2 separate regions of the Homo sapiens genome follow, and region 1 is linked to region 2. The links come from fine-mapping of genetic effects on gene expression. A gene starts in region 2. The other region holds a variant in brackets. All regions are shown on one strand. Distances are between the middles of the regions.

Region 1 (2,913 bases), 620 kb before region 2:
TCTCCATCTCCTGACCTTGTGATTTGCCCTCCTTGGCCTCCCAAAGTGCTGGGACTACAGCTGTGAGCTACCGTGCCCAGCCAATAATTTCCCTTTTAATCATGATTCTAAGTTGCCAGCTTAGCAAGGCAACTTAGCACGGCAGTATGGAAGAAGAATGATTCAGAGACAGGTGTTCTTAAAATGAAGTAAGCGTGTAAGGTAAGGTACTACTAGCCTGTCATATGCAGCAATCATAAAGTTGAGGAGGAGGCTGATAGATTGTTCCACACTAATTTGGTGAGTAGAAGGAAGGCGCTTGTTCAACTGATAGTAGATGGAGGAGATGACAGTTTCGAGGCGGGACACACTGATCTCGGTGGTATGGTCCAGTGTATTAAGGCCATTGTCTCGGAAGGCTTCAATCATGTTCCAGATATCAACAAGATGAACTAAAAGACAAAGAAAATAAACTGTCAACAATTTTAAAGTGTGGTACTACCCTTCACAATAGGAATCTAAAATTTATCAACTAGTTCTTAAGTTTAAAGAGAAGAAACTCTTTAGCCAACAATGAGGAAAACATTCTGTGGTCAAATAAAGAACATCAGTCCCAGACAACATCAAGGAGCCACCACAGCGGTATGGGAAGGACTACTTCCAGCCTTCACATTTAAATAGCGAGTATTTCACGTCTCTGCAAATAGTGACCCATGCAATTCCTAACAATGGATAACTTGATAAAAAGATCAAGAACTACTCCTAAGAACTTCTAGTCTTTTTGAAAATTTGCTGTATTACCTTGAGTCAGCTTTACTGTATTACTTTAGCCGAGCAACTAAAGCAACATTTTACAACTGAAACTTTACTGTATGACCCTAAAGAGAGAGACAAATACAACTGCATTAAGTAAAATATTAATATGCTTTAGAGGCTACTCAGAGCTCTGAACAACTCATAGCTCAGCCAAAAATAAATTTATCTACTGCATATTTCCTCCATTATTTAAGAGGCTGACTTTCTTTTAAATTCCATTTCCAGTAATAAAGTAGGCGCGGTAGCTGGGTCTACACTCTTCTTGAAAACGACAAAAATTCCTGGATGGAATATAAAAACTTCTTAAGTGCACAAAAAAAGTAAACAATACTCAACTACACAGAAAAGAGACATTTCCTTGAAAGAAAAATAATTAAGAATGATGCCTGACTTCAAGCAACAAAGGAAGCAGAAGACTGCAAAATAATTTTAATGTGTTGAAAAGAAATCAAAACCACCAACAAAATTCTACACCTAGTATAAAAAAACTTTCAAGAAAAAAGGTTCAATAAAGACATTTTCAAGTAAAGGAAATCTGAAAGTATACTTTCCAACGCTGAAAAACTAGGGGAAGAACTGAAATTAGGAAAACACAACTATTCAAAAGAAGGCAAGAAACACAGAACAAGCAGCAAAAATAGCACAAGAAAAGATGGCTGGTGCGGACCCAAATATGTCAGTTAACTGCAGTGACTATAAACACACTAACGTACCACTTACAAGACAAAGACTGACAAATTCACAATTTTTTAAATAACCAAATTATACGCTGTTTGTAAGGGATATGTCTAAAACAAAAGGACATAAAAAAGATTTAAATATAAGTGGATGACAATTTTCAACCAAAACAAAGGTGATGTAACTTTAT[T/C]CGTAACAGGAAAAAAAGGGGGGAGGGCGGAGCTTGGAAAACCATATGATCAACTCAATAGACATAGAAGTAGCATTTGGAAAAATCAAATACCCTTTCATAATAAAAACACAACAAACTAAAAACAGAAGAAAACTTCCTCAACCTGATAAAGGGCATCTACAACAAATCCCAATGCCAACATCATACTTAATCAGGGAAGACTGAAAGCTCTCCCCTCAAGATCAGGAACAAGACACTTCAAGTACAGGCAGCAAAAAAGAGATACGCTGCATTTTATTTAAATTTTAAAAGTCTGTGTTTCAAAGGATACTATCAAGAAAGTGAAAAGGCAACCCAAAGAATGGAAAAAAATATTTGTAAACCATGCATCCATTAAGGGTCTGGGATCCAGACACATAAAAACTCTTACAATTCAACAATTAAAAAAAGATAACCCAATTTAAAAATGGGAAAATAATTTAAATAGATATTTATCCAAAGAAGATATACAAATGGCCAACAAGCACATGAAAAGATGCTCAACATCATTAGTCATTTAGGGAAATGCAAAAGAAAACTACGATAACATACCACTTCACACCAGCCAGAATAGCTAGACTTTTTATTTAAATGGAAAACAAGGGTCAGCGAGGATGTAGAGAAGTTGAAATTCTCATAAACTGCTGGTGCAAATGCAAAAGCATGCAGCTGCTTTGGAAAACAATTTAGGAGTTCCTTAAGAAGTTACACACAGGTCCCATACGACCCAGCAATTCCACTCCTACAGAATTGAAAACATATGTCTACACAAAATCTTGTACAAATGTTCATAGGTGCATTATTCATAAAAGCCAAAAGTGAAAACAACCCAAATGTCCATCAATATAGATACACGGATAAATAAAATGTGGCATATGCATATAATGGAATACTATTTGACCAAAAAAAGGGATGAAGTGGCCAGGCACGGTGACGGTGGCTCATGCCTGTAATCCCAGCACTTTGGGAGGCCGAGGCGGGTGGATCACTTGAGGTTGGGAGTTCGAGACCAGCCTGGCCAACATGGAGAAACCCCATCTCTACTAAAAATACAAAATTAGCCAGGTGTGGTGGCACACGCCTGTAATCCCAGCTACTCAGGAGGCTGAGGCAGGAAAATCGCTTAAACCTGGGAGGCGGAGCTTGCAGTGAGCCAAGATTACACCACTGCACTCCAGCCTGGGCAACAAGAGTGAAACTCCGTCCCAAAAAAAAAAAAAAAAAAAAAA
Region 2 (2,913 bases):
ACCCGGCCCAAACAATGTTTATTAATTGCTCTGTCATGCTACTTCTCATGCAAAGGAAATCCATCATCTCAATCATTCATTTTGCAGATGAGGAAAATAAAGCCCATTTAGTTTAAGGCATTTGTCCAAAGTAACACAGCTAGTGACTAGAACCACGTGCCCTGGCTACCACTTCCGAGTGACATCAGCTGCCGATCCATAAGAAATACCTTCAAACCAATGCAGGGGTAAGATAAAAATTACACGTTACTTTTCAAAAGTGTTGTGAAAATAGGGGAAAAAAACCACCAAACCTGTAAGGAAACATAACCGAAGGCTAACCGTAGGTAAGCATATGAGTAGTAAGACAATGGGTGATTCGTTTTTTTTTCATCTCTTTCCTCAATCCTTACAGCATTTCAATGTTCTATAATGTGCTTATGTTATAATTGGCAAATACATGCTACAGTTTTGTGGAGACTAAAAACAGCTGTTGAAAAAAGGGAGCAGAAAAATATTCAATCATTAAAAAAATCCCCTTACAGTAAGGGATTTCAGCTACTTGTCTAAAAAAAGCATACTACTTCAGCGGTTCCGGAAGAGGGAAGAGAGGTAATTCATATTACAAATTAAATTAAAAGTTAAAATTTCTAGTTAAGTAACTTATTAAGCACAACATGCAATAAAACGTTGTCCACTTTTGACTTTACAGATTTGGGATGGAAAGAAAATGCAACGTTTCCTACAACCACCCACTTTAACCCTTTCACTGCCAGTTTGAAAAGGAAAAACACTAGCTAATACAGGCTGACTGGGAATCATCAGATTACAAATCGTTCTCAGAACGATCTAACATTTTATTGCTTAAGGTAGAGGTATTAGCGTATTTTTAAAGTGTGTCTTCCAGTAAGTTGCAGAACTTCCCGCTGAAATTCAAAATACTATACGTTCACACTGACATTACTGAAACTGCAAGAGTTGAGCTCCCTACTTGATTGGGGTAGTAAGCACAAAAATGGTTTTGAGGGAACGGAGCAGGGAGGGGCAGTGATCTGCAAGGCTGATTAATCCCATACAAGACAGCGCTTGTTGCGGGGTAAGGTGCTGTTTTTAAGACAGCTCTTGTTGCGGGGCAAGGTGCTGTGGAGCCACAAAGATGCGACAGAATGGATCCCGATTCTCCTGGAACTCCGGATCAAGAAAATATGAGGGGCGTGAGCCCAGAAGTGCGACGCAAGAGACCCGCGGAAAGGTGACAGAACGAGTGGCACCAGACTCAGAAAGTTGGGGAGTTAGGAAGCCTGAAATCGCCGCAGGAGTCGTGAGAGGGGAAGTGACAGTCTCTTCAGAAGGTCACGGGAAACCGGGTCCCAGGGCAGTATCCCCACAGAGGGCTGCGTCTCCGGGCTGGGGCAGGCGGCAGCGAAAGGGAGACGCGGCTCCGGGGCCACCCCAGTCCCGGCAGGAGTTCTGCCCGGAGGTCTGGGATGCCCTCGGCCAGGCCTCACCTCGGGAGCGGAGGATCCTGAAGGCAGAAAAGCGGCTGAGGATGCCAATCGCCCGGCAGGCCACCATCTTGAGCTGAAGAGGACAGCAGTGGAGAGCGCCTCTAACGGGTGCGGCCGAGCGGAGGACTTTTCTCCCGTAGCCTGGCAGCCAGGCGCCTGGAGCACTGCCTGACTAAAACCCAGATGCCGAGTGGCCGCCGGCCCCTTAGCCCTGCCCCTCGCTCCTGGCTAACATGGCCGAAAGGTCGTATTCTCCGGGGGAGGACGGGGGCCCGGAGAGGAGGGGGTGGAGTGCCTGGTTTTCCAGTCAGGCGGCCGGAGGGCAGCCCTCAAGAACGGCCCTGACCGCCCGCGGGGTGAGGGGCCCTTTCTGGGCAGGACCCGCCCCTTGGTCCCGCAGAGCCTTGGTACTTGGACCTGAACCTTGCTCCGAGAGGGAGTCCTCGCGGACGTCAGCCAAGGTGAGACGGCGAGCCCTCAGCTCTCCGCCCGGGCTTTCCCAAAGGCGAGATTCCACTTCCTTCCCCGCAACTGTCGCCGGTGCCCCCGGCCCCCTCCCCTCCCTGGGAAAGTGGGAGTTGAGGGAGCGGAAGGAAACTCCTCGGACAAGGTCGGCAGTGCTAGCTGCAGTTAGGACAGTGACTTGGACTAGCGTTCCAGCTGAAGTTCGGGACAGTAGTGTCACCTGCGCCCTAATTTATCATCACAAGTTAACGAAGTCTGGGGGTGTGGGGGTGTGTGTGTGTGTGTGGGTGTGTGTGGGCGTGTGTGGGCGTCGGCCTTAATGTAACCCTGGTCTGCGTAGAAGTGTGTGTTGTTTCGCCTGCTTCCCCTGTACCCAGGTCGGCGGCTATAGAGATTGTGGACGGCGCCATGGGTTTGCCCGATTTCTGCTGTAAAGAATAAGACTAGGTCAGGTGACCTTTCGGGGCTTGAGTGTGGGAGGAACGGAGACAATCCTCCATCCGGCTCCGTTATCCAGATAATCCTGCGCTCTCGGGGGTTTTCCGATCTGGATGATTATCTATCTGGTCGTTCACACCTCAGCTCACTTAAGCGGTGAAGAAACTGCCTACGAATCAGAGAGAGTGATTTTACCCATGGCCATATGTAGTAGAAATAAGACTGGAGCCTAAGTCTACTAACTCCTAGTGAAGAGTTCTTCATTGCATGGTAGCTGTTTTTGTGCTGGAATGATGGGCTGGAGTCCTGGAATAAAGTGATTGATTTCAAAAGGAAGTCACATTGAGAGCCTGCTGTGCTCTGGTCACCTTCATACCTTTTTGTTTAGTCCTCACATTCCCCAAATTATTATCATTTGCATTTTCTAGATGAAGTTTGGGAAGCTCAGAATATATACATTTTCTAGTCTGTGACAGACCTAGCATTCAGACATAAGTCTGAGTCTCACTACTCGCCAGACTGA

Which allele goes with the higher level. Positions count from the first base shown, and alleles are read on the strand shown. Sizes are in standard deviations (SD) of each study's normalised expression.
With allele C in place of T in region 1, the expression in whole blood of the gene that starts at base 1,590 in region 2 is lower (moderate effect, 0.54 SD a copy in Lepik 2017).

What was found. PIP is the estimated chance that this variant, and not a neighbour inherited with it, causes the effect. A credible set is the group of variants that fine-mapping cannot tell apart.
Region 1: its variant is the best candidate, but not a certain one, in a credible set for the expression of HADHA in whole blood (Lepik 2017, PIP 0.85).

Annotation. Positions count from the first base shown.
Region 1 is chr2:25,627,954-25,630,866 of GRCh38, forward strand. It overlaps DTNB (dystrobrevin beta), which reads right to left. Exons shown (of 21, transcript NM_021907.5): 4 at 218-431. Among named protein-coding and RNA genes, the nearest start is that of DTNB, 44 kb to the right of the region's middle. The variant T/C (reference allele first, on the strand shown) is at 1,664.
Region 2 is chr2:26,243,043-26,245,955 of GRCh38, forward strand. HADHA (hydroxyacyl-CoA dehydrogenase trifunctional multienzyme complex subunit alpha) reads right to left here and starts at 1,590. Exons shown (of 20, transcript NM_000182.5): 1 at 1,488-1,590. The coding sequence starts at 1,554. HADHB (hydroxyacyl-CoA dehydrogenase trifunctional multienzyme complex subunit beta) reads left to right here and starts at 1,897. Exons shown (of 16, transcript NM_000183.3): 1 at 1,897-1,948. RefSeq lists enhancers at 1,432-2,112, 1,967-2,066.